Homo sapiens: one gene and its partners. The protein of the gene in region 3 interacts with the protein of the main gene of each other region in a biochemical or structural test. Each region holds a gene or a part of one and is shown on either strand. Other genes may lie near its edges.

The links.
Region 1: the proteins of UBE2W (region 3) and RNF111 form a complex in vitro, tested with the Homo sapiens proteins (one study listed by BioGRID).
Region 2: the proteins of UBE2W (region 3) and ZNRF1 form a complex in vitro, tested with the Homo sapiens proteins (one study listed by BioGRID).
Region 4: the proteins of UBE2W (region 3) and TRIM7 form a complex in vitro, tested with the Homo sapiens proteins (one study listed by BioGRID).

What each region holds. Positions count from the first base shown.
Region 1 is NC_000015.10:59,074,637-59,081,662, reverse strand, and holds part of RNF111 (E3 ubiquitin-protein ligase Arkadia), read right to left. Parts: intron 5,710-7,026; coding exon 5,448-5,709; intron 728-5,447; coding exon 379-727; intron 1-378. UniProt on the Homo sapiens protein: E3 ubiquitin-protein ligase. Required for mesoderm patterning during embryonic development. Acts as an enhancer of the transcriptional responses of the SMAD2/SMAD3 effectors, which are activated downstream of BMP.
Region 2 is NC_000016.10:74,995,001-75,002,042, reverse strand, and holds the start of ZNRF1 (E3 ubiquitin-protein ligase ZNRF1), read right to left. Parts: upstream 3,020-7,042; 5' UTR 2,372-3,019; coding exon 1,948-2,371; intron 1-1,947. UniProt on the Homo sapiens protein: E3 ubiquitin-protein ligase that plays a role in different processes including cell differentiation, receptor recycling or regulation of inflammation. Mediates the ubiquitination of AKT1 and GLUL, thereby playing a role in neuron cells differentiation.
Region 3 is NC_000008.11:73,875,853-73,882,814, reverse strand, and holds the start of UBE2W (ubiquitin-conjugating enzyme E2 W), read left to right. Parts: upstream 1-3,952; 5' UTR 3,953-3,992; coding exon 3,993-4,007; intron 4,008-6,962. UniProt on the Homo sapiens protein: Accepts ubiquitin from the E1 complex and catalyzes its covalent attachment to other proteins.
Region 4 is NC_000005.10:181,195,185-181,202,210, forward strand, and holds part of TRIM7 (E3 ubiquitin-protein ligase TRIM7), read right to left. Parts: intron 5,833-7,026; exon of another isoform or gene 4,970-5,832; coding exon of another isoform or gene 4,898-4,969; coding exon 4,667-4,897; intron 3,934-4,666; coding exon 3,911-3,933; intron 3,622-3,910; coding exon 3,506-3,621; intron 3,035-3,505; coding exon 2,999-3,034; intron 1,698-2,998; exon of another isoform or gene 494-1,697; coding exon 1-493. UniProt on the Homo sapiens protein: E3 ubiquitin-protein ligase that have both tumor-promoting and tumor-suppressing activities and functions in several biological processes including innate immunity, regulation of ferroptosis as well as cell proliferation and migration.

The DNA of each region.
Region 1 (7,026 bases), on a different chromosome or scaffold from region 3:
CAGCTTTGAACTCCTGGGCTCAAATTATCCTCCTGCCTTAGCCTCCTGAGCAACTGGGGATTACGGGAATGAGCCTCACCCAGCTTATAGTTACAAGTTACATTATTTCTAAAGACTTCATGGTTTTTTTTGTTGTTGTTGCTGTTCTTTGTTCTTTTTTTAAAAAAAGAAAACAACAACAACAAAAAACAGTATTTCACTGTGTTGCCCAGATGGACTCAAACTCCTGGGCTCAAGCAATCCTCCTGTCTCAGCCTCCCAAGGAGCTGTGACTACAAGTGCATGCCACCATGCCTAGTTGGATTTCAGAGTTGTAAAGACCAATGGAAGTAGAAGAAAAAGCAAACTTGACTTTCTTTTTAAAAACGTAAAACATACGTTGGATGCTGCATCATCCTCCTCCTTTGAACTTCCATCCTCTGCATCACTTCATGAGGATGCAGTCTCTGTGCTGGAGGTGCTGTGGCTGGAATATGGTGCGAAATTGGCTGGTGTGTAGGAGGAAGATGCTGAGGGATTGGTGCAGCTGTACTGGCTAAGTGAGTTGGTGGTGGGGGTGCCACAGGATGAGATGTTGCATGAGAAGATATTTGAGAATGGAAAGCATGTACAGGATGAGGAATAACATAATCCACTTGAGGCGGAGGCTGAGTCTGAGGAGGGGGGTTTCCATGAGAATGCGGGCAGGCAGAAGCTTGATGATGAAGTGGCCTTGTCAAAGAGGCATCTGCAAGAAAAATATTTTGAGTATGTTACATAGGCACCATGCAGTTGAACATATATTGCTATTATACATTCCTAGTGTACTTTTAAACATATTAGTATTTTATTTTTATGAATACTTTATCAAGTAAAGTATTCAAGCAACTGCTCAAGCAACTTGCTCCCTTCTTACAATAATCTTGGATATCTTATGTCAATATATATATTATAGTTTAACTTCACTCACAGCTTCACAACATTCTATTATATGAACACACCAAAATGTACTGACAAAATCCCCACTGATAAAAAAGAAACCCAAATGCTATGATAAATATCTGTGTATATGCTCACTCCTGCACTCACTCTTTCATTTACACACATGTATACACACATATATAGAGATCATTTCTGTAGCATAAATTCCTGTAAGTAGTTGTGGGACAGAAAGAAAAAAATAAATTTAGATGCCAGTTAATAAAAATACCCTTTCCAAAAGGTTGCCATAATTAATATTTCCATCAAGAGTACACAGGAAGGGCCAGGCACCGTGGCTCACACCTGTAATCCCAGCACTTTAGGAGGCCAAGGTGGGCAGAGTCACCTGAAGCCAGGAGTTCGAGACCAGCCTGGCCAACATGGCGAAGCCCCGTCTCCACTAAAAATACAAAAATTATCCAGGCATGGTGATGCACACCTGTAATCCCAGCTACTAGGGAGGCTGAGGCAGGAGAATCGCTTGAACCTGGGAGGTGGAGGATGCAGTGAGCTGAGATCATGCCACTGCACCCCAGCCTGGGCGACAGAGTGAGACTCCACCTCAAAAAAAAAAAAAAAAAAAAAAAAGGAGCACACAAGAAGGCCTGATTACCCCCACATTACCACTAAATTTTTAAAATAAATGCCAATCTGAGAAAAATCTTTTATTTCTTGACCGCTTGTATGTGTTCTCAGAATTATCTATTTACATGCTTAGCCTATTGTATTACTCACCTTTTTCTTATTGACTTGTAAGTATTATTTGCATATATGGAAGCTCTGTCATAATAGGGTGTAAACATTTTTCCAAACTGTCTCTCTCTCTCCCTACCCCATGTCATTATTCCTGTGCTACATTAAGGTGAAGGAGACCTATTTGTTTCCCATCAAATATGGACGTAAAGTCCTTAATAAGATGGCTCCTACCATTTCTTCATTCTACATCTTTATGTTTCAAAGTGACTGCTGAAAAATCTCTCTGAGGAATACACATCTTCCTTACTCTTAGAGATGTGCATCTACTTGACATGTAAAAAAAAAAAAAAAGTTTGTCTTAGATTTCAATACAAATTTCATTTTATTGGAAGATGTTCTTGGAAGTCTGATATAGACCAACAGCCATTCTCTAGTTTCATTACAGAAGTTTTCAATTTTTAATGCTTTTGATTCATTCAGCAAGGGCAGAAGTTAGGTAACAATAACTCAACTATATTTTCAAAGTATGCCTTGTTAGCATGTACTTAAAGGAAACTTTCAACAAATCTAATTTTTAAAAGTTGCAAGACAAATTTTTAAACCAATTTTCTAAAAGTTCTGTTTTCAAATCAATGCTTTACTCTTCAAGAAGGCACAAAGCTCAGTAGCTAGCTCTTAATCATAAAAAATGAATCCACTATGTTTTATGATTGTTAACTATCCTTTCTCAAATTCACAGCATTTTTTCTAGTTGCAAAGTTTTATATTTGTGTAATCATTATACAACATTCACAAATATTACAAAGCAAGAAGTTTTGTTTCAGAATGAGTCCATTTATTTAACTACTCTTTAGACATCACTTTAATTCACTGTTTAAACAAAACAGGTTGCTGACCATTTTAAGAGTGACATATTCCACATTCCCAAAAACCCTTTCCCTTCCTCTATTTGTGTTCCCAACAGTTAAAAAAAGTTCTTGATATTGTTTCCTAGACGTTCAACATATCACTTGCAGATGTAATACTATGCTTTATTCCAACATTTACTCACTGCATTCCCATAGCTTTACAGTGTAGACCATTTGCTTTATGATTAATCGTAAGTAGCCTTACCTATACCTCTCTTTTTTTTTTTTTTTTCTTCTTTTGAGAGGGAGACTCGCTCTATCGCCCAGGCTGGAGTGCAGTGGTGTGATCTCAGCTCACTGCAATCTCCATCTCCCAGGTTCAAGCAATTCTCCTGCCTCAGCCTCCCGAGTAGCTGCGATTACAGGCACCTGCCACCACACCCGGCTAGTTTTTGAATTTTTAGTAGAGACAGGGTTTCGCCATGTTGGCCAGGCTGGTCTTGAACTCCTGACCTCAGGTGATCCACCCGCCTCGGCCTCCCGAAAGTGCTGGGATTACAGGCGTGAGCCACTGTGCCTGGTCTTTTTTTTTTTTTTTTTTTTTTTAGAGACAGGTTCTCACTATGTTGTCCAGGCAGGAGTACAAGGATTGTTCACAGGTGTGATAACAGCACACTACAACCTTGAACTCCTGAGCTCAAGCAATCCCCATGCCTCAGCCTCCTGAAGAGCAGGAACTACATGCTCATACTACCAAGCCAGGCCTTACATATCTTCTCAATACATCTTATTAATAAGATAGTAAAACTTTTAAATAATAGCATTTCAAGTACAGTTGTTTTATCACTTCATCAAGACCACAAACCTTTCAAAAGCAGAGAGAGACATATTCTTACTCCACAAGTATTGTTGTTATACATATAAATGTACTTATGAAACAGCAAACTATTCATCTGGATCCAAGTATCACAATTTATAGCCAATAGGAATTATTCCCATTTTACAAGTGCAAAGAATGTAAGGACAGAGAGATTAAATAACTTATCCAAAGTCACCAAGCTAATTAGTCAGAGCTGGGAGGTCAACTCGAATCTATCCAATTCTAAAGCTAGTGCTCTACTATGCCATATTGTCTTCCCCAGTTCATTCTGGATGAAAAAAGGTTTAAGAACCACATGTTTCACACGTGAACTAAAGCATACGGGAAATGTTTTTTAAAAGCACGGGCAAGTTGGGGAGAGAATACACACACTCCTTCAGGAAAAGAAGCCCAAAACAGAGTTATCAAAATGTCTCTAACAGAAAATAATACAATTTAAATTTCCTACCTTCATTCTCATTAACACACTCCTAATGAGGTGTGTAAATTGATGCAGCCCCTTGGAGAGAAAACTTAACAGTATTTATCTGAAAGTTTAGCCCTCTGACATAGCAATCACATTTCTAGGAAGTTAAACTATACATAAACTCAACCATAAACAACTTTAATGTCCATCAACAGAAGACTGATTTAATATACAATGGATATTATGGGGGTATTAAAAACCAATGAGCTAGATTTTTATGTGCTAATATGCAAAAATCAAAATATACTGTTAAATTTAAAAACAAAAAACAAGAAGTAGAATATGTTTGATTTCCCATTTTTAAAAGGTAAGACATATACCTATCTATGTGTACAAAGAAAATTTCTAAAAGTTTTTATAGAACAGTTACTACCTCTGATATATTAAGATTAGTAAGCTGTGCGAGGAAGCTTTTAAATTCTCATTTTATATGACTGCACAGTCTGAATGTTTTAGAATATAACAAATGAATCTAAAACATGTATTTATTAGGACATTTTGAAAGGAATGAACTTACTCATAAACTGCTTCAGTATATTATTTTTAAAGGGGAGGGGCAGAAAATTAAGCATATTGAATTTCAAATAAAAGATGATCAATCAAAAATGAATACCATCAAGTATTACAAAATAGGCCATGCATCACACTGGTGCTCATACAAAGAATTGGCCCATTGGTCAATGCTTTGTAAAAACTTGCTAAATGTTTTCCAATTTATACTTTAAATTTTAAGTTGCATTACTGAGAAGGTAAATAATATATCACCAGTTTCACTGTACAGATTCTGGGTTGATTCCAGCTGCGTCTGCACGATGCAGATTTTTTTAAATGACTGGAGTAGAAGAAAAAATCCAAGAAGATATGTAAGTGAAAATTACCACTTGCCATGTAATCAAAACAAAACACAAATTTCCTTGCTGACTTCCTGGTTCATTTCCAGCATGAATTTTTGGTGTTTATCAGCCAAGTGTTTATTAAGCTTTCATTTCATTATTAGCTTATGATCTAACAAAATAGTAAATATGTTACATAGCCTTAGAGTATTTATCATTTCTTGTGATATCTAACGAATTTCAATTTCTTTAGAAAAGGCATGGCTGGTTCTATTTTATTTTTATAGAAACGGGGTCTCACTATGTTGCCTAGGCTGGTCTCAAACTCCTGGCCTCAAGCCATCCTCCTGCCTTGGCCTCCCAAAGTGCTGGGATTACAGGAGTGAGCCATCATGCCCAACCATGGTTATATTTTAATTGCCTGCATCAAATGAATATAAAAATCCTTTTACAACTCCCAAAGCTTGCTGTTATGTCTCAGCTAACTGCTTGAGAATTCTTAAAAATTTACTTTACTGTGCCTAGAAATACTACTCAACTTTCACATTTCTTCAGCTATACTAAAGAACAAATCTAAATTCCTTAAAACTTCCATTCAATCCACCTCAATTACATAATACTAACATGGGAAAAAATATACCCTACTCTTAAGCCAAGTAAATACTAAAAATTTAAGAACTGGGATTAAAGGTTATTTCATAAGGAAGTACAAAATGCTTCATTGACATGACTCTAGATTTTGTGTCCACTAAGTATATACTTACAAGGGGGTGGCATGTAATGTCGACATGATGAGAGAGAGGGCTGTGGAGGGGGCTGGGGCTGGGGCTGCGCAACCATGCTTGATCCATAGCCATCTATTGATGATAAAGGTTGACTTGGGGCAGCAGCAGCGGCCTGATGGCCAAAGATTGCAGCTCGGGAGGAAGAAACAGGGCAGCAGGGGTCAAATGCAGATGCTCCATGAAAACTGCCACTTCCATGACTTCTGATACCACTGTTGCTCAGGTCCACTGGCAATGCCTGCTAGATAAAAAGGAAGTATATTTTATCTTTCTAAAGTTTGGTCAAATATTTCATGTTATATTATAAAAGTATTCCTAATATAACCAAAAAAACATAATCTTTAAATTAGTTTGAAACCAGGAAGATTCTTAGTATGAAGAACCAGTGAGCACCAACAAAATACTTGGTTATCTTGAATATAACAAGTGTATCCTGGATTGTGAAAACTGTAGTGGTTTTACAGTTAAACCAATTTTTAAAAATCAAGCATAAGATTTTATCACAAGATGAACAAAAGTTTAATATATTAAAATCTTTTTGTCTTATAACAAATACATCTTAGAAACTTTAAAAATCATACTTCTATATTCTCCTTTATCCCAACATTGTGACTAGTACTTTAGGACTCCTTGAGAAAACATACTATCACACTACTGAAAATATTAAGGTTCTAGGAAAAATCTTGTCTGCCCCAAGTTCCAAACTGTATAAAGCAAGAATTCAATTAAAGTGCTAATAAACAAATCTACATTATTCAAAATAACAATGGACATAAGATTTTTCAGACTAAATCATGAATTACCTTTGCCACTCAAAGCTTTCACTTGTTCAAAAACATAAGAATAAAAAAAGTTAAAGCACTGCTTCCTTTTATAGGCATATTTATTGCATTTTATAGGCACATTTAGTGCTTTGCAGATGTTCGGGGTTTTTTGTTTTATTTTTAATAAATTGAAGGTTTGTGGCGACACTGTGTCAAGCAAGTCTATCAGAGTTATTTTTCCAACAGCATGTGGAAACTCTGTGTCTGTGTCACATTTTGGTAATTCTCTTAATATTTACATTTTTCTCATTATTATTTTATCTGTTATGGTGATATTTGATGAGTAGTCATTGATGTTACTATTATAATTGCTTTAGGCACCAAGAACTGTGCCCATATAAGACAACAAATTTAACAGATAAACATGTGTGTCCTGACCAGATGTTTCCCCATTACCCTGCTCTCCTCTCTTTGGGCCTCCCTATTCCCTGAGACACAACAACATTGAAATTAGGCCAATTAATGGCCTCTGGTATTGAAGTGAAAGGAAGATTTGCACATCTCTCATTTTAAACCAAAACCGAGAAATGATTAAGCTTAGTGAGGAAGGCATGTCAAAAGCCCAGAGAGGCCAAAAGCTAGGCCTCTTGCACCAGTTAGCCAAGTCATGAATGCAAAGGAAAAATCCTTGAAAGAAACTGAAAGCACTCCAGTGAACACACAAATGATAAGAAACTGAAACACCCTTATTGCTGATCTAAAGAAAGTTTTAGTGATCTAGATGGAAGATCAAA
Region 2 (7,042 bases), on a different chromosome or scaffold from region 3:
CATGATGGTCCTACACAGTAAGGAATGGATTACCTACAATATTAATAGCAGCCTCCCATACACACTTTTGACACCCTTCCCTAAAGGATTAATATGCTCCAACCTTCCTGTCCCCACAGTTCAGTGGCTCTCCCTACCCTCACCATGATCGGATGAAAAAAAATAAGGTTTCACAGCTTAAGAGTGAAATTCTGGAATCCAACTACAAGCTCATAACTGTAGCATGGAACCTGGTAGTAGCATAATAAATAAATTTTTAGTAAGAGGCTTAAGAAATTTTAGCAAAAAAAGCACTCCCTTTCTTCCTCCCTACATATCTCATATGTTTTTCAACACAAAAAATTCTGTGATTTTAGAGAAACTTCTTACAGTACTTTTAAGTTCAAAACCAGATGCTCATTACAGTTCTTTTAAACACCAAACTAGTCATCTCAAAAATATGGCTAACTCTCTGGACTAAATTCCATAGGAAAAATTATTAATTTCAAAATGCCTAATTTTGATCAAATGCCTGAAAGAGCCAAAGGCAATCATGTCCTGCTTCTCACTCAGGGCAGAGTTCCATGAGGTCAGAAAAGCTCCAATGATATCCGGAGGTCTGTCAGAGATTAAAATATCATCCTAACAATTCACAAGCTACTTCTAAGTGTTACCCTAAATTAGTCACTAATCGTTTCTCCCCCAACACTATTTCACAAATTAAAGTTTACAGAATTGACAAAAAACCAAACCAAATGAAAACAAACCCCAGGCTATTTGCAGGGGGGGGGAAAGAGATACCCCAAAAGTCAACCCTATTTCACAGTAGTTAAAAGAGTGATCCAACAGATATTACCCTCCATAAAGTACCCTAAAGGCAGGAGCAATCTTTCCCCTACACTATCTAAATTTTCCCAACTCACCCAAAAGAATCTTAAGATGTAACTTCATCACTCAACTTGCCAATTAGCAAATAGCGGCCCCCACATCCCTTTTGGCCAATTTTCTAGATGCCTGACCTAGCAGACAGACCTGTTTTCCTCCTGCCAGGCCTTTTTTGCCCTCCCGCTAGGAGCCTGGGAAATCCCCCTCCAACCTTTTGCTGGCCTGTCACCAGAAGTTCATAAAATGAATTCATCCAGATTCTCTGAATCCTCCTTTTCCCCAGTCATGTGCCAACAGCCAGGCAATAATGCCCCACCGTGACAGGCTCCCTGTTACAAAAAGATGCAGATTCACGGGAAGACCAAGCACTTAGCATGGAGCAGAAGAAAAAAAGATGGAGGGAGGCGAGAGTCGCGGAGCCAAGCCTGCTGCATGCAGTACGGGTGACCACAGCCCGGGTCCTGCAAAGCCCCCGCGAGACTCGCCGGCTGGGCCCTCCGTACAGCAGCCACACCTGTCTATGCCAGCCGCCTGCCGGCTGCTCCATTTTAAACATTTCAAACAGATCTCCAGCAGGGTGGCAAAACTGGGCACCTCTCTCTCCCAGCAAGAGTGAGAGCCCTAATCCAGGCATCACTTGCCCCTGATTTTATTTCATTTTCACACACTCTGTTTAGGAGACACTGCTTGCTCCAACTGGCTCCATCTCTCCGTTACCGGTGAGGCAGGCACAGTGCTGCAGTGGCAGAATGGAAGTACCCAGGCTGACTTGCTCTCAGCCAGACACGACCTCTTCTCTGAGGAGGGTGATGCCAATAAATGGAACTCCAATAGGTAGGCTTCGCTCTGCCCTTCCACAAGTGAACACACGCCGTGAGTCCCTAAATCGCCAGGCTCCGCAGCCTCGCAGAAAGCCTAGTTTCCAGACGGTAGGTATCCCATTTATCCCTTGGCATCGGGAACCAAAGGGAATGCAGACAGATCCCGGTCGTGCACTACATTCCCAAACCTTGGCACGCACGCGAAGGCTTGGGGCGCCCCGGCGCGCCCTCCCTCCGAGGCCTCCACCACCCGCGGACTCACCACTATGCGAGCTGAACCACCTGGGTGCGATGTGCAGAGGTAGAGCATCCGCCAGCGAGGCTCGGGAGCCCAGGTACAGCATCCCGTCTCTATGGTGACCGCCGCCCGTCTCCTGGTAACCATTGCCATGGGCATAGGTGGAGTCGGACGCAGACCCTCCGCCGCCGGGCGCCCTCTCGGAGTCGCCGGTGCCCCGGGAGGCGGGGGTGTAGAGGCCAAAGGGCACCCCCCCGGCCGTGCTGGGGTCCATGCCCATGCCTGCCACCGAGCTGACCGAGCGGCTGCGCAGCCCCATGGCCCCGCCGCCCGTCCGGTAGTGCCCGAAATGGGGCGCCCCTCCCGGCGGCGGCACGGCGCTGTCATCGGTGGAGACCCCCGGGAAGGGGCCCCGGGAGCGGGCCGCCGTGCTCTGCTTGCCCCCCATGCTCGCCCGGGCCCCGGTGGGGCGGGAACCTGGAGGCCGAGACCCTCCCCCACTTCTCAGCAGCAGGGGGAGGGCTGGGCGAGCATAAAGGGGGAGGGAGTCAAAAAGGAGACCCGGAGGGAGAAAAGGAAAAAAAGCAAAAGGAAAAAAGGAAAAAACCCGCGGGGCGGAAGAGGCAGGCGGGCGGGCGGGGATCCCAAACTCAGAATTTCAAACGATCCAAGGCAAACGCATGTTTCCCCTCAAGGTCCAAAGAGGCGCAGTCCGGCGCGGGCTCCGCGCGCCACAGGCCGCCCCCGGGCTCCGAAAGCCGGGGGAGCCGCAGGGAAGGAGGGAGGGAGGCGGCGGCGAGCGGCGGGCGGGCGCGGGGAGGCGCCGGAGGAGGCCGCCCGCCCCGCGGGAGGAGGCGGAGGAGGGCCGGGGGCGCCGGGCGCGTCCCCCGCCTCAGGACGCCGCGACCATGGACGGCGGCCCGGACCCCTCCAGGCCTCGGGCGGGCCGCGGCGCTGGGCGGCCAGGCGCAGCTCGGGAAGCCGCGGTCGCGTCGCGTCGCGCTCTCGCTTCAGCCGCCGCCGGCCCCGCCAGCCGCGCCGCCCCGCTCGGTCCCGGGCTGCGCTCGCCGGCGCTCCTCGCCGCCGTGGAGACAATGGAGGGCGGCAGAGCGCAGGCGCGGCCCGCGCCCCCTCCCCCTCCCCCCGCCGGGTTAACCCTTTCGCGGTCCCTGCGGCGCCTGGGCCGCTGACGCCCCAGCAGTCCCCACCCACCGCCCGCCCCCGGCCGGCCTGTGACCTGGGCGGCCTGACCACTGGGCGTTAGCCACAGAAACCAGATGTCTTTCAAAAGCAAACACTTCTTAAGTCCCCGAAAGTGGCAAATTATTCAGGGGGAACCAAGTATGGGGGAGGGGCAGCAATGGTTCGAGGGGGTGGGAAGGAAACACCGGGAAGAAGGAGATTTACTCCTTACGCCTACCTGGCTCTGAGGGTCACCGGTCGAGCTCCCCTCCTGGCACAAATTTGCCCCCACAGCACCCTCTGGTGGACGTGATGTCCATTCTTTCGGGGGTTCCCCATCCAAGCACCCCTCACGTCCGGAATCTCAACATTTGGCGGGGTTTAGTTATTTGGGGGTAAACAGCGCCATGGGGACACTTGTGAATCCGGCGTTTTGCTGACACTAGATCATAACTTCCTATTTTGGGCTTAAGCAAATGAGTAGATTCCTTAGCTAAAATGTAATTTTCAGAATCAATAGATGTACCATAAAAAGTGAATAGATATGGGTATGGAAATAGAACAACGCAGCTAGAAGTGATTATAGAAACCTTCTGTCCAAGGCTGGAGCCCTGTTTTGTTTACCATGTGCTGTGTTTCGGCCCTCACCACGGGCCAAGGACACGGTGGGTACTCAATAGGTGTATTGTTGACCAAGCCTGAATCATTTGCAAGGGAGTGTTCCTTTGCTACCTCAAGCCGTCTTTCTCCTATATTCACATTCATTTATTGAACAACTGTTTTTTTTGTTTTGTTTTGTTTTTGTTTTTGAGACGTAATCTCGCCCTGTCACCCAGGCTGGAGTGGTGTGGCGTAACCTCGGCTCACCGCAACCTCCGCCTCCCGGATTCAAGTGATTCTCCTGCCTCAGCCTCCCGAGTAGCTGGGATTACAGGCACATGCCACACTGCACCTGGCTAATTTTTTGTATTTTTAGTAGAGGCGGGGTTTCACCGTATTGGCCAGGCTGGTCTTGAACTCCTGACCTCAGGTAATCCACCTGCCTTGGCCTCCCAAAGTGTTAGGATTACAGGCATGAGCCACCGCGCCCGCCCTGTTTTTCTTTTTCTTTTTTTTCTTTTCTTTTTTTTTTTTTTTGAGACGGAGCCTTGCTCCTCCCAGGCTGGACAACCTCCGCCTTCCAGGTTCAAGTGATTCTTCTGCCTCAGCCTCCCGAGTAAAAGTCTGTTAAAAATTTCAAAATCAGGCCGGGCACGGTGGCTCATGCTTGTAATTCCAGCACTGTGGGAGGCTGGGGGTGGGGGGGTGGGGGGAGATGGGGCAGGGGATCACCTGAGGTTAGGAGTTTGCAACCAGCCTGACCAACATGGTGAAACCTCATTTCTACTAAAAAAAAATGAAAATAAAAAATAAATAAATTAGCCAGGTGTGGTAGCTCACGCCTGTGATCCCAGCTACTTGGGTAGCTGAGGCAGGAGAATGGCTTGAACCCGCGAGACAGAGGTTGCAATGGGCTGAGATCGCGTCACTGCACTCCAGACTGGGCAACAGAACGAGACTGTCTCAAAATATACATATGATATATATATATGTGTATATACATACATATATAGTAGAGATGGGAGTTTCCCCATGTTGTCCAGGCCGGTACTCCTGGCCTCAAGCAGTCCTCCCACTTCGGCTTCACAAAGTGCTGGGATTACATCATGAGCCACTGTGACTGCTGAACAACTATTTATCAAGTGCTAGGTGCTGGCTGTGAGTATCACACAGTCCCTGGCTTAGCTGACTTCCACCTATTAAATGACCCCAGATACTTCTAAACTGGGGGACCAAAACAGGATGTTCAGAAATATTAAAAGAAAACCAAAAAGAGCAAGGCTAGCCCGTCACAGGTATTGATTGTTCCATTGTGGCCAGCCTGGAAACAGGAGGAAACCTATTTGCAAGCATGAAATACCTGGAGGTGAGCAAACAGCCCTGTAGAAGTAAGAATTTTTGCAAGAGAAGTAAAAATAGGAAGAAACAAAATGTGCCAACATCTAATAAATTATCTGTAGGTGCCTATATGAGTATGTGTATACCTAAAGAGGAAAAACAAGAAAGCTTAAATTTAATCCCATTTCCTCCTAGAAGAAAGACTATGGTATCAGAAGAGTGGTTCAGTACTATACTAAAAAAAAAAAAGGTATTAGACCCCGTGGAAGATCCCTATTAGAGAGATAAATACATGATACCCATTGTAACTATCCAAACAGCTTTTGATTTATCCATTCACTGAACAGTTTTTTAGTGTATTTAACACAATATTTAGTATGTAATAAATTCCAGGCACTGTAGTAGGTTCTGGGATACAGTACTGAACCAGAACCAGACAGATGGAGTCCCTGTTCTCATAGAACATCAGAAGAAACACTTCCCACCCACTTGAATGGCTATGATCAAAGAGAAGGGCAATAGTAAGTATTGATGAGAGGTGGAGAAATTGGAACCCTTGTACCTTGCTGGTGGAAATGTAAAATGGTGCAGCTGCTTTGGAAAACAGCCTGACAGTTCCTCAAAAAGATTAAATGTGGAGTTACATGACCCAGCAATTCTGCTCCTACCTAGGTAGAGTTCCAAGAGAAAGCAAAACATATGTCTGCAGAAAAATGTGTACGTAAATGTTCATAGCAGCATTATTCAAAAGAGCTAAAAAGTGGAAACAACCCAAATGCTCATCAACTGATGAAGAGGTAAACCAAATGTGGTGTATCTATACAATGAAATATTATTCAGCCATGAAAAGGAATAAAGTACTGATTCATATTACAACATGGATGAATCTTGTAAAAGCATATTAACTAAAAGAAGCCAGCCATAAAAGACTATGTATTGTATGATTTCACTTATATGAAATGTCCAGAATAGGCAAATCCATTGAGACAGATTGATTAGTGGTTGCCATGGCCTGGGGGGAGGGGAGAATGGAAAATGACTAATAATAGGTCTCTTTCTATTTTTTCTTTTTTTCCTTTTTTTTTTTTTTGAGACGGAGTCTTGCTCTGTTACCCAAGCTGGGGCACAGTGGCATGATCTCGGCTCACTGCAACCCCTACCTCCACCTCCCAGGTTCAAGTGATTCTTCTGCCTCAGCCTCCCAAGTAGCTGGGATTACAGGCATGCGCCACCATGCCACGCTAAATTTTTTTTTTTTTTAAGACGGTGTCTTGATCTGTTCTCACCCAGGCTGGAGTGCAGTGGTGCAATCTTCACTGCAACCTCCGCCTCCCGGGTTCAAGCGATTCTCCAGCCTCAGCCTCCTGAGTAGTTGGGATTACAGGCGCGCGCCACCACACCCGGCTAATTTTTGTATTTTTAGTAGAGATGGGGTTTCACCATGTTTGGTCAGGCTTGTATCAAATTCCTGACCTCGTGATTCATCCGCCTTGGCCTCCCAAAGTGCTGGGATTACAGGCATGAGCCACTGTGCCTGGCCACTAATTATTTTTTGAGACAAGTCTTGCTCTGTCGCCCAGGCTGGAGTGCATTGGCATGAACTTGGCTCACTGCAACCTCTACCTCATGGGTTCAAGTGATTCTCCTGCCTCAGCCTCCCTAGTAGCTCGGATAACAGGCACGTGGCATCATAACCAGCTAATTTTTGTATTTTTAGTAGAGACGGGGTTTCACCATGTTGGCCAGGCTGGTCTTGAACTCCTGACCTCAGATGATCCACCTGCCTCAGCCTCCCAGAGTGGCTGGGATTACAGGCTTGAGCCACTGCACCTAGCCTCTTTCTGTTATGTATTTATTTGTTATTTATTATTTTTTAATTGTGTGGTTACAAAGTGGTGTCTTTCTGTTTTATGCATTTACTTATTTAGAGACAGAGTCTCACTCTGTCACCCAGGCTGGAGTGCAGTGGTATGATCTCAGCTCACTGCAACCTCTGCCT
Region 3 (6,962 bases):
CTTAATATATTTACAAAAGTGATTTTTAAACTCAAAATGGTATGTAATTCCCATTTCATTTTATCTTAGACTTTTTAACATGGTATTTTAGACAAATCATGCACAATTTTGATTCTCTTTAATAGATGCATGGAATTTGAAATTTGGAAGAAACCATAAAGATTATGCAGTCTGACTTGCGCATTTTATTGATAAGGAAAGAAACCCAGAAAGATTAGAAGCCTTACCTAAGCTTGTTAATCACAGAGCTAAGATAAGAATACAAGCCTTGGATTCTTACTTTGGTACCTTTTCCAAAATCCAGTAACAAACTGTTGGTGACTGAACTGTCTCCATTTCTCTGCTGAGATCAGCCCCTAGGAGACTAAGAACAAACTACTGGGTGGAGGCATAGACTCAAGCAAGGACTCATCAATTCTGCCTTTTCATGCTTCAACAAACAAATGTTCACAGGACTGCTTCTGACTTCCCAGTTTAATAAATCACTAGAACAAAAGCATTCATAAATCACATTACATTATCCATTATAGCACTTACCCAGTAGTCCCTTTGTGGGTCCTTTAATGTTACTATTTAGTTTCCCATATTTCCTTTTCTTTACTAGCAGAAAGTCCAGATGCTAATTTAGACCTGTCTCAGGCTCTCTCTTTACCTTGGAAGGGAAGATCTCAGGCACATACACAGCTTGGGTATGTCCAGATTTTTTTTTTCTTCCAGGGAAGTGGAGATGCAGGTAGTTTGTGAGATGAGGGAGAATCTCCTCGTAAGCTGATGGACATTTCTAATAGCTGTGGAAATGAAAAAGTGAACATCATTATCAAATCTAACAAAAATAATAATTCCTTAATATCCTCTAATATCTACTCTATATTTAATTTTCTCCAGGTGTCTCAAAAATATCTCTTTTACAGTTTGTTTGAATCTAGATCCAAACAATGTTAACATATGCATTTGTTCAATGTACTCTTACGTGGCCAAGCATGGCCTGTAATCCCTGTAATGCCAGCACTTTGGAAGGCCAAGGCAGGTGGATCACTTGAGGCCAGGAGTTCGAGACCAGCCTGGGCAACATGATGAAACCCCGTCTCTACTAAAAATACAAAAAATTAGCCAGGTGTGGTGGCACATGCCTGTAGTCCCAGCTACTAGGGAGGCTGAGGCAGGAGAATCACCTGAGCCCGGCAGGCTGCAGTTGCAGTGGGCCAAGATCGCGCCACCGCACTCTAGCCTGGGTGACAGACTGAGACTCCGTCTCAAAAAAAATATATATATATATATAAATATATATATAAATATATAATATATATATTTTATATTATATATAAATATATATATTTATAATATATATATAAATATATATAAAACTCATATGATGCTATTAAGAAGATCCAGTAAGGATATGGGAAACTTTAACTTCATTATTGCCGAACTATTTTCCAAAGTGATTGCACTAGTGTCACTCCTATAGAGTTTATGAGAGCTCCACTTCCTCTCTCACTTTTGGTATTGTCAGATATTTTTTTTGAGACAACAGGGTCTTGCTCTGTCACCTAGACTGGAGTGCACTGGCATTATCCTGTCAGACATTTTAACTTTTGCCTATCTGATAGTAATGATAGTAAGCCTCGCTCTGTAGAAATATGAGCCTAGTCTTCAAACATGGCATAATAGTGTTTTAGATATTAACATTACATGCTCACTGGAGATAATTATATACCCCCCATACCATCTGTAAGTCACTGTTTTGGCTCCTATGTCAGGATCTTTTTATTAAATATTAACAAAAGAATGGCCGGGCGCAGTGGCTCACACCTGTAATCCCAGCACTTTGGGAGGCTGAGGCGGGTGGATCACGAGGTCAGGACTTCGAGACCAGCCTGGCCAACATGGTGAAACCCCCATCTCTACAAAATATACAAAAAAATTACAAAAAATTAGCAGAGCGTGGCGGTGTGCGCCTGTAATCCCACCTACTCGAATCACTTGAACCTGGGAGGCAGAAGTTGCAGTGAGCCAAGATCGCGCCATTGCACTCCAGCCTGGGTGAGACTGAGACTCCGTCTCAAAGAAAAAGAAAAAAAAAAGAAGACAGGTTATTATGTGCTATTTAGTATTACCTAGAAAGGATATGACTGGCATTGACTTTTCCCTCCTGAGAAGATACTTCTAACATATATGAAACCCAAGGGACCAGATATTGGATCCACTGTGATGAGTGTCAGAATTCTTGTAACCTCTTTTTTCCTTATTAGTATCTGTCATGCCAGGTTGTTGGCTCTGATGATGTCATAATGCTTTGTTTGTAGGGTCATCCGATGCTACTGTTTCCACAGGAACAATCAGCTTTTAGGCAAAGTGAACCTTGGACGGTAAAAGCTGATCTTCTGAGGTCATAGGAATAAATATATCTCAAAGAAAATACACTGGAAACTTCTTCTTTAAGTTTTCCTCTTTCATTGGAATATGTGGGTTTCCTCACTGTTGTAATGTTGATGACACAACAAGGCTAACACCGGATATGCTTCTGGCTGATTCCGGTTTACCAAGAGCATCCAAACATCCCTCAAGGACACAGTCATTTTGCACAACAAAGGGAAACTCCGCTCATTTCTGGCATTAAGGTGGACATCTGAGAAAGGGGAGGGTATACCACCATAACTTCTCTAGTGATGAATAGTGTTTAATATTATACCATAGACTAACTGGCGTATTTTAAAGATCTTTTTCCTTTTTGAACACATTTCAGATTAGAGAAGTTCCAGAGAACGTAATCTATTTTAAGAGTGTGAAAGAGTGATATTCCACATTGCTTTTATATCTTAAAGAAATTTCTAAAAAGAAAGCCGAGTCAATAAAATGACAGATTTTAAGCCTTCATTCTGGTAACATAAAAGCCTTCTACTCATTGTGTCTGCCACCTTAATTTTTAAAGATAGAGCATGAGGTGTAAGCTTTTGGCTTCCATTTTCCTCTTATAAACCAATGACATCTTCAGTTCCAGAATAGCTTTTTAAAAACGTGACTTCTGATAAATGTTGGCAGAACTGGTGCATTCCTAAAATAAATTATGTATGCTCAGCTTTCCCTACCCAAGTTCATCCCTAAATGACCACAAAACTGCCCACCACGAACTATGCTTAAGAGAAGTCTGGACATAATGGTATAAGTGTATATAACACGACATTGGTATATTTAAAAAAAAATTCATGCCTAGGGTCAATTCTGATAATCAAATTTAGACTGCTGCAACAACCGTAACTATTGTTGATATATGCGCAGTTTAAAAGTGAAGGGCGGGGGTAAGGGGCAGAAACTGCACACAACAAACTTCCAAATTTTGTCTCCCTTTTCAGGCAAGTTTCAGCTCCACAAATCTAAATACCCTCGCCTTTAAAATATCAGTGTCGTTCTGCTCTTAAATCCTCATCCCGTTGTACAAGGAAACCTATGTCTCTCTTCCCCAAATTAAGAATACGAGAAGCCTTCCAGGTCTGCAAATACCAGAAAGCAGCTGCGCATGAAGTTTTATGGGGCCCCAAGGCTCTGAGAGTGGGCTTGGAGGTATGGAAAACACATCCCAAGGGAAAAATCTGTGAACCGCACAACTGTGGTTGGAAACGAAATAGGAAAAAAACTGCGCGGAACCGGACGTCATCAGCATTTCGCGGTACACACGAAGAAAACAACCGTAGTCGGGTCAAAACTGGAGCCGTGTCTCCTCAGTAACGAGAGTAAATGGGGGCCCGACGCGTGAGCGGCCAGCCGGACTGAGACAGAAAGTACTCAGAGCGCCATTTACCGCGCCCTCGCCCCGCCCCGTAGCCCCTCCTCCCGTCCGCCCTGCGCGCCAGCCAATCCCCTCGCTCCATCCCCTTCCCATCGCAGACCCCGCCCCCGCGCCCGGGATGTTGAGCCCCCGCGGCGTGACGCGAGCACGGCAGCTCCTCCCCCTGCGTCTCTGGCCTCGCCGGTCTTGGGGGGATGGTTCCATCATGGCGTCAATGCAGGTGAGAGGAGTTTGCTGCATCTGGGCGGGCCAGGGAGCCGCCGAGAGAGTGCCAGCGTTCGGGCGGGGGTGGCGTCCGCGATTCGGGGACACCCGGGCGGGTTCGGGATCGGTCCGGGTGGCCTGTTTTCCCTCAGCTCAGGGCGTCGGGGGAGGGGTAAGAGGCGGCGAGAGGCGTTGTGGGGGGTGCGGTATCCGTCGGTCGAAGCGGACACCAGCCGGCCGGGAAGTTGGGTGATAAAGGAGGGTTGGGGAAGAAAGGGCAAAGTCTGGCGTTGGCGGTCTCAGAATCGGCTCCCCGCACACACACACGGGCGCTGCCAGTCTGCTGCCCGCCAGCCCCAGGGTTGCCTTTACCCCCGCTGTCCCTGGCCCGACGGAAACAGCTGCGCCCGCGGTTGTTGCCGGGGCAGGGGCGGCGGGGGGCTGAGTGTGCGGGAGCCGAGAATGCGTCTCCGGAGAAGGCGGCTGGCTGCGGACGGCGCTTAGCGGCCTCTGCTCCGGCCTCCCACGCCGGGCCCCCCAGACTGCTCGGCCCCGTCCCTCTCTTCTTCCCTTTGACTCTTAATCCTGTGCCCGTGGGTATCTTCTATTTCCATCAGCCTCGGTATTCTCGCGGACATTCCTCCAGCAGTCCACTGTCTCCTTCCTCTCGAAGCTGCCCCGTGTCCACCGCCTGATGGGCGATCTCCCGAGAGCCGAGTCCTCAGCCCCCTTAAACCTCTCGGGATAGCTTGCCTTCTATTTTGTTTCCCACTGCAAGGCCCCACCCTTGCGGTCGCGATAAGGCTATACATCTCTTTGCCCTTATTCCCAGACCTTTAGTGGAACCTTAGTTTGGTAGGAGGCGTTTGTTAACCTGTGCCATATCCCCCCGACTTAGCAAGGCGTGGTTTTCTGGCTTTCCAACTTAATTTACTCCTTTTTCCCGAATCTAGGGAGTTGTGGGTTTTTTTGTTTTTTGTTTCCAGGCAAAGATGGCAACCACAATTGTAGTTGTGCAGGGATTGAGTGCGTTATCTGTAGCCTGCATTTAATTCACAGGTGAAGACTAGCGGTATCAAAGGCATTGGAAGAGAAAGTAGAACGCTCAATAGGAGTGTCAGCTGAGTACCCTTTAGCGTTTTCATAATATCCCCTTGGGTAAAGAGACCACATTTTCTTAGAAGTGTTTTTTGCTTTTGTTTCTGGAAGAAGCAAGTCTCTGTTCCTCCTCCATTTTTTTTTCTTTACTCTGCTAAAAGTGTTTTTCTTCCCTTTTCTGCATCTTCTTCCTCTTTTGTACAAATATAGCTTTGCTTCACATTTACTCCTGTGCTTTTATGTTATTCCCCTTTCAACCTGTTTTCCTTACAATATTCTCTTTACCTTGCTTCTCCCTCTGGACTTGCCTGCAGAACAGAAAAGTTTTATGTAACATTTCTAGTTGAAGAGATATCACGAATGGTGCAGGGAAAAAACAGGAACAATTTCAGGAAACATTATACTTTACACTAGTCTCCCCAGAGACGTTGGAGAAGTTTCGTCATTTGAGGCCAAAAAAGGAACAGTGGAATGCTAGTTGAACAGTAGATGCAATAGGCTACATTACCACTTAAAGATTTTTATCTGTGTTAAGATTAAAACATTTTTTATGACAAGTTTAAGATTATTATCTGTATTAAGATTAAAACATTATTTGAGGCTAAACATTAAGATTAAAATCCACAACACTTGTATTTGACAAGAGAACGTAGTGTGTCATCTCGTTAGATTTAGTATCTGGAAAAGGCAGATTTGTTTGTAAGAGAGAGGTTGGTAATCTTGAACTTGAACTTTACATGGTGTCTTTTTTCTTTTTTGAGATGGAGTTTCGCTCTTGTTGCCCAGGCTGGAGTGCAATGGGGCGATCTTGGCTCACCGCAGCCTCCACCTCCCGAGTTCAAGCGATTCTCCCACCTCAGCCTCCTGAGTAGCTGGGATTACAGGCATGAACCACCACGCCCAGCTAATTTTGTATTTCAGTAGAGACGGGGTTTCTTCATGTTGGTCAGGCTGGTCTTGAACTCCCGAACTCAGGTGATCCGCCTGCCTTGGCCTCCCAAAGTGCTGGGATTACAGGTGTGAGCCACCGTGCCTGGCCTACATGATGTCTTAAGAATTGGAAACAAATACTTGATTGACAGTGCAATAGTGCATTTTTCTGTGCCCTAAGTATTACTATCTCAGACTCTTACCACCCTTTTAAGTTTTTCCTTCACCTTGTTCCATCGAAATCTTATCACTCTCTATTCTTCTGTGTTTTCTGGTTAGAGGAATGGAAAACGGATGCTTCCTATATTTATTGAAAAGTCTTTCCCTTTTTATTTGTATTTTAAAATATCTAGTGCAGATTTGCTGGTAGTATCTTTAAGAATATTTTAATATATATGTCAAGCTTTTTGAAAGACAACCCTACTTTCTGTGTGGTTATTCTGTATCTTTGTTATACAGAATTTATATCCTGACTATCTTAATGGCAACATTTGGCTCTTTTAAGACAACTAGATTATACATAAATCTTCAATAAAATTATCAACTTTGTTTATTCACTGAGCCAGTTATCTTTTGGGGGACCTCTATGTGTCAGACACTTATCTAGTTGCTGTGGTTATAGCAATGAACAAAAGCAGACAAGATTTCTGCCCTCATGGATTTAATAATAAATAGTCTCATAAGAAGAGACAGATAAGAACAGCATATTTAAGTTAATTGTGTTTTGTTCTTGTTTTTTGTGTTGAGATGGAGTCTCGCTGTGTTGCTCAGGCTGGAGTGCAGTGATGCCATCTTGGCTCACTGCAACCTCCGCTCCCAGGGTTCTAGCAATTCTCCTACTCAGTCTCCTGAGTAGCTGGGATTACAGGCGCTGGCCACCACGCCCAGGTAATTTTTTTTGTGTTTTTAGTGGAGACTGGGTTTTGCCATGTTGGCCAGGCTG
Region 4 (7,026 bases), on a different chromosome or scaffold from region 3:
TAGGTGCCCGTGGAGCAAACAGAGAAAAGCGGGAACACGCGCTCCTGGAAGTTGACGCGGAAGGTGTAGAGGTGGCGCATGTCCTCCACAGCGTAGAAGGACACGGCTCCCACCTCCAGGTCCAGGGCCACCCGCACGCGCGACAGGTGCCCGCAGCTGAGGGGCGACCGCTCGGGGCTGGTCACGGCCCAGTACTGGCCGCCGTTGAGCTGCAGGGCCCAGACGCCCTCCTCGGGAGTGAAGGGCGTCAGGCCCTTTCGGCGCACGCTCTCGCGGGCCACGCCAAAGGCCCAGCCGTCCTTAGAGCCCACCTCCACCTCCCAGTGATGCCGGCCCGAGGAGAAGCCGCAGGACGCCAGGACGCGGGTGTTGGTGTCGAAGCGGCAGGGGTGGTTGGGCAGGTCCTGGGCCCGCTCGCCGAGGCGCACGCCCTTAAGATCCAGAGAGAGGATGAGGCGCGGGTTGGCCGTGTCGGGATCCAAGGTGAGCTCCACTGCAGACAGAGACAGGGAGAAATGTCCCCACGCAGCCAGGCCCCTGGCACAGTCTTTGCAGGGCCGCGCCCGACCTTGCTTTGCAACCTGCCTGCCTTTCCCTCTAGAATCCCCCCAGCACCCAGCGCCAAGGCCCAACCAACCCCCACGCTCTGCCTCCCAGAGATTTTGCTTCCCCCCGCCCCGACCACTCAACAAGTACTTACTGAAATCAAACAAATGCAATGTGTGGGCCTGGTTTGAACCCCAATTCAACAGATGGGGATATTTGAATGCTAGACATTGGAAAGAATCATTAATCTGTCCAGGTGTGAGGACTGCTTTGTGGTTATGTTTTACAAAGTCTGTTTCTTTAGAGATAACACACTGAGGTATTTATGGCAATGATATGTTGTCTCTGATGCTTTAAAATAATACAGTAGGCCAGGCGCAGTGGCTCACGCCAGTAATTCCAGCACTTTGGGAGGCCAAGGTGTGTGGATCACGAGGTCGGGAAATCAAGAACATCCTGGCTAACATGGTGAAACCCCGTCTCTACTAAAAATAAAAAAATAAAATAAATTAGCCGGGCGTGGTGGCGGGCGCCTGTAGTCCCAGCTACTCGGGAGGCTGAGGCAGGAGAATGGCATGAACCCGGGAGGTGGAGATTGCAGTGAGCTGAGATCACGCCACTGCACTCCAGCCTGGGCGACAGAGCAAGACTCTGTCTCAAAAATAAAAATAATAATAACAATAATACAGTGGAGGCCGGGTGAGATGGTGCACAGCTGCGATACCAGCACTTTGGGAGGCCAAGGCCAATGGGTCACATGAGGTCAGAAGTTTGGGACCAGCTTGGGCAACATGGCGGAAAACTTGTTTTGTATTTTCTCTACTAAAAATACAAAAATTAGCCCGGCATGGTGTCCTGTGCCTGTAATTCCAGCTGTTTGGGAGGCTGAGGCATGAGAATCGCTTGAACCCAGGAGGCAGAGGTTGCAGTGAGCAGAGATCAGGCCACTGTACTCCATGATCTCACTCCAGAGTAAGACCCTGTCTCAGAAAACAAAATAATCCCACAGGAAGTGGATAGCAGTGTCTATGAAAACTGTGGCCACTAATTGATCACTGCGGACGGTGAGAGATGGGTATGTAACATTCTTTACACTCTTCTCTCTACTTTTGAGTATGTTTGAAATTTTTCATAATAAAAAGTTAAGGCCAGGTGTAGAGGCTCATGCTTGTAATCCTAGCACTTTGGGAAGCAGAGGTGGGAAGACAGCTTGAGCCCAGGTGTTGGAGACCAGCCTGGGCAATATAGCGAGACATCCGTCTCCACAAAACATAGAAAATTTAGCCAGGCATGGTAGTGTGCTCCTGTAGTCCCAGCTACTCGAGGACGCCCAGGAGAGAGGATCGCTTGAGCTTGCGGGGTGGAGGCTGCAGTTCCACTGCACTCCACCCTGGGCAACAAAGCGATACCTTGTCTCCAAAAAAAAAAAAAAAAGTTAAAATATGTACACTTACTGTGAGCACTACTACGATTGAGGCCCTGGGGGTACCACAGAGTATCAGAGTAGTCCTGCCTGCCTGCAGCTTCCTTCCCACAGGGAGAGGATTGAGGATAGATTATAAACAGAAGATGAGAGGGACCAGAAGAGCAGGCTGTAACTTCAACCAGAGTGGCCAGGGAAGACCCTCACTGAAAAGGGGCATCGAGCAGACAGATATAAAGAAGGCAAAGAAGCAGGCCACAGGACTGGCTGGGGAAAGCATGCTCCAGGTAGGGGCCTGGGGTGGGGGAGCCTGGCAGTGCAAAGGCCCCGGGATGGGTGTGTGCTTGGTACACTGAAGGAACAGCAGGGAGGATGTGTAGCTGCGTGGAGTAGAAGGGGTGTGCAGTGAGGCTAGAGCCCGTGGGCCCTTGAGACCTCCATGGGGACTCTGACCTTTACCAAGTCAGAGGGGCTGTGGCAGGGCTCTGAGCAGAGGAGGGCCTGGTCTCACTCAGGTGTTTTAGGTGGCACCCAGACACACTCTGACTTAGCTCAGACATCAGCATCAGGAATATGTGCCCTCCCCTCCCCTCCTCTGGGTGTTGGATGCCACACATTCCAGAGCTTTGCAAGAGTAAAAACGATATTCCTTCCAGTCTTTAGCTTCCCCTTGCTTTCCTGGTCCCCTGTATACACCCCATTCCCAGGAGAGGTTTCCATCCATCTTGGAGTGGGGACCGGGTAGAGGCTCACCCAGGTGGCCGAGAAGCCTTTCCCAGTCTGAGTATCTCGAGGTACAGGGCATTCCTGCTCCTAACCAACCTGCAGCATTTGGGCCAACATCTGAGGGTGTCAGAGCTCCCAGGATGGGGAGGGGGTGGTGTGGGGGAGGGGACAGAGGAACAGGGTTGCTGAGGTGGGTGGGCTGAAGGAACCGACCATATGCAAAACCCTGAGATGGTCACGAGCAGGGAGTAGGATCTCTGTGTGGCAGACAGTCCATACTCGCCATCACAGCACCATCCCTACCTTTCTCCTCTTTCTCCAGCTCTCCCCGAAGGTCCTCTGAGGAGGAGAAACAAAGCAAGGCGTGCATGAGCGACACGGGAGATTATATGGCAAGGTCACCAGCTCTTTATATCCCAACTGACTCATTCATTCCCCAGAGACTCCTAAGGCCAAGAGTGAACGTGCAGGCACAGGGCCAAGCATGGGGAGCGGGGGGCAGGGGGCCCATACCCAAGCATTCTAGCTCTACCCAAGTGGCTCTGAGCTGAGCTCCCCTGCACAGCTCTCTTCCTAACCCCAGTCCCCCAGCAGTACCCCTCTACCCCATCTGTGCCCATGAGAAGCGGCATGCCCTGCGGGGGCCTGACTAGATTTGCCACCACAGCCCCTACACCAATCTGGCCATGGCACAGCCAGCTCCTATTTTCACACACAGCTTCTGGAAAGCACACCCAGGGACCCCTGAGCTACCAGGAACCCTCCACCACCACCGCACTATGTGGCCCAGCTTGGCGCCCAGGCCCCTACCTTTGAACTTCTTCAGCATCCCTTTTAAGACAAAGGTCTTGAGAGAAACATTCCAGACTTTATTCTTCATCTCAGAAGAGACTGTGGTTGGCTTGGGGCCAGGCACATTGCTACACCTGCAGGACAAGGGCTCTGAGAAGGGCCTGTGTGCACCATTTTGCTCCCACAGGCTGTGACAATTAGGATGGCGAGGTCCTCTTGGCAGAAAGAGGTAGAAAAGGGAGAGCCAGACCTCATGCAGAAAAACCCATGGCCAGGCAGGTGGGCGTTTGTCTCGGAAGGTCCCCAGGCAAGCAAGTCGGGGGATCAGGAGGTGAGAGGTCAGGGGACAGGGAATAAAGACAAGGCTCAGTGAAAAGGGAAGAAGCAACTTAGAGAGGCCCCAGGAGCTGTGAGGTCACTCACCTGCTCAGCGTGCTTTTGAATTCCTGGAAGGAAAGATAGAGGAAACCAAATCAGCATCAGGTAACCTCCATTCACCTCTGAGAAACAAAGCTTGCCCCTTGCTGTGCCTCCCAGATGTAAGCATAAGCAAGTGTGCCACGCCTCACTGCCTGCGTGGGCCTCAGGGGCAGCAGCTTCCAGTGGCTGCTGGCTGCAGGGTGTCTCACCCACGCAGTGGACCTCTCACCCTTTGCCACAACTCTTCACGTGCTTTCTTTCTATCTTTGCTGCTTTCTTAGTTACAGAATCATCACTGGAGCTATCCCATGGGACCCAGTGCTGCGTGTGTCCTGGAAACCACCTGAGGGAGGTCACAGCCCTTATGCACCTACTGCTCACTCAGCCCCATAATGACTGTTCTTAACCCATCTATGGATTGTGAAGTTTATCTAGTTGTTTATAACTTTTTTTTTAGCGAAATAGAATAGAAAACATCAAAGTGCATACGTGTAGCAAAGGTGAGTATTATTTTCTGAGACTTTTGTCTCAAGCTTGTGATTCTGAAATACGATATATATTATTGTGGCTCATAGTCAAGAAAGTTTTCACATCTCTCTAGACCTCCAACCCCAGGAAAATCAGGGCACTTCTCTCCAGTCCCCTTCAGCTCCAGATCATGTGATTCTCCTAGACCCCCCAGGACTGACACTGTTCTCTAGCTGCTGGTCCTGATGCCTTAGGATAAATGACTCGAGCCCCTGGCTGAGCCAGACTTACCTGGAGAAAGTCAAGGTCAGGCTTTTGAGCTGTCTCCTGGATCTGGCTGCTGAGCTTGGACAGCTGGGTGATCTCAACCCCGAGCTGGGCCAGGTTCTCATTCTGCTTCTGTGCCACCTCCCGGGACAGTTCCTCCAGGCGGCCTAGCAGCCGACCCTCCTGCTCCACCAGGAAAGCCCTCAGTGCCTGGAACTCTGCCCCCACCTTCTCCTGCTCCGCTGCCATCTGTTTCTGTCCCAGGAGGAGAAGTTGGAGAGGGACTTGAACATGGAGACATAACATTTGGCCAGTGGCCTGAGTCATCCCACAGGGCAAGGCTTCGTCCCTGTCACTGCTGGAGGATCGGAGACACACCCACCTACGCACGCAGTGCGTGCTCTATTGTCAGTGTCCCAGCTCTGAACAAGCTGTAGTCTGGACACATGCTCTTTTCTCCCCTGCCACAGATGCACCCACACATGTCTGTGGACCTGTGCTCCATCACCTAAACCAAGGCAGCTTCATACTCCCCCCAGAACTACGCCAAGCTGCAGCTTCCTCACTTGAAAAGCAGAAGGGATAAATTAGTGCCTCCTGGGGCAACCATAGGATTAAACTGAGATTGCTTTTTCTTCCTCAAGCACATTTATTTCATCACCCTCAAACTTTTACACTTCACTTTCTTTTTAAAGGCCATCTTTCCTGTTTAGCAGTTATAATGCTAACACATGCTCAAAATACAAAACTTGGGAGATGTAGGAAAGTAGAAAGAAGGAAGAAAAGTCCGATGCCAGTGACCAGAGGTAGCAGCACACCCCCAAGGAACGAAGTGAGAATATGCGGCATGCAAGTGTCATATTCTGTTCTTTCCATTAACAGCATACACCGGATTTTTTACTCGAGTTTTCAGATGCAGACTCATGCCCTGATCTCTTGATTTTTTATGTGAACACACGTTTGGCACTCAATATGTCCCACCAGGAAGTTCCTCTTCCTTAAAACTCCTGGGCGGAGGAAGGGAGTCCTGTGAAGTTGGGAGACCTGGGTTCAAGGTGTCCTACAATGCCCCCACCTTTCCTTCAGCTTCCAGGCAGGCTGCAGTAGCCTGGAGCGCCTTATGGATATTAACTCCCTCAACCCTGACGGCAGCCCAGTGGGGAGGGTGCACTTCCCTTCAAGTCTTACAGGTGAGGAGACAAAAGACAGACACATCACCAGGAAGTGTTAAGCCAGGCTTCTCGGCCAGTTGCCTCACAAGGAGGTAGCACAAGTGAAACAGTATTTGCCAAAATACTCTAAGCCAGGGTTTCCCAACCTTAACACAGTTGACATTTTGGGCCAGATACTTCTTGGTTGTAGGGGGCTGCCCTGTGCCTTGTAGGACATTTAGCCGCCCCTCTGGCCTCTACCACGAAATGCCAATAGCATCCCTATCCCATTGTTGACAACCAAAAATATAGTATCTCCAGACTTTGCCAGATGTCCCCTGGGGTAGGAGCATTTTCAAATAAGAGCATTCCTTCTCCCTTTTGTGTTGCAGCAATAGTTGGGCTCTACCTCTGATGTTTCATTAAGCAGGGTATTGTAAATGAGACAAGTGTCATAAATCCAGAAGTATTTTATTGCTGCAAAGAACAGGTAGAGCTCACACCTGTCATCTCAGCACTTTGGGAGGCTGAGGGGGGCAAAGTCAGGGGAGAAGGTTGCTTGAGCCCACGAGTTCCAGACCAGCCTGGGCAACACAGGAGACTACCCCCAACCCCAGCTCTACAAAAAATAAATTAAAAATTAGCCGGGTGTAGTAGTGCACACCTGTAGTCCCAGCTACTCAGGAGGCTGAAGTGGGGGGATCGCTTGAACGACTCCAGCCTTTGTGACAAAGTGAGACTCTGTCTAAAAGCAAAGCAAAACAAAACAACAACAAAAACGAATGTGGGGGTGGATGGATGGATGTTGGGAGAGGACAGAGGTGGAAGGTGTTAAGCAAGGCCTGGGGACTCCGGTCAGAGACTGTGAAGCTGCCGCCGGTGCCAGGGAAGGCCCTCTGGTTCCTGGATGTCAACCAGTGGGGGAAGAGCTGCATTGGGAGTCATTTCTCCAGTGGAGGAGGGATGAAGGTCTAGAGGGTGAGCTCTTCCTCATGGAGGAAAGTGAGTGATGAGGTAGGAAGGTCTGGGATGCACACTGGGTGCAGGCATAACAGATATAGTTGAGGGTCTGGAAAGGACCCTAGGGTGTCTGAACTCCAGGCTCCTCCTCCACCCCTCCTGACATTGAGGATGGGAGGGTCCTCTAGTTCACCTTCCTTCAATTCCCTGCCTTGACAGGTCCTAGTAGATCCTTTCATTCTTTTTTTTTTTTTTTTTTGAGATGGAGTTTCA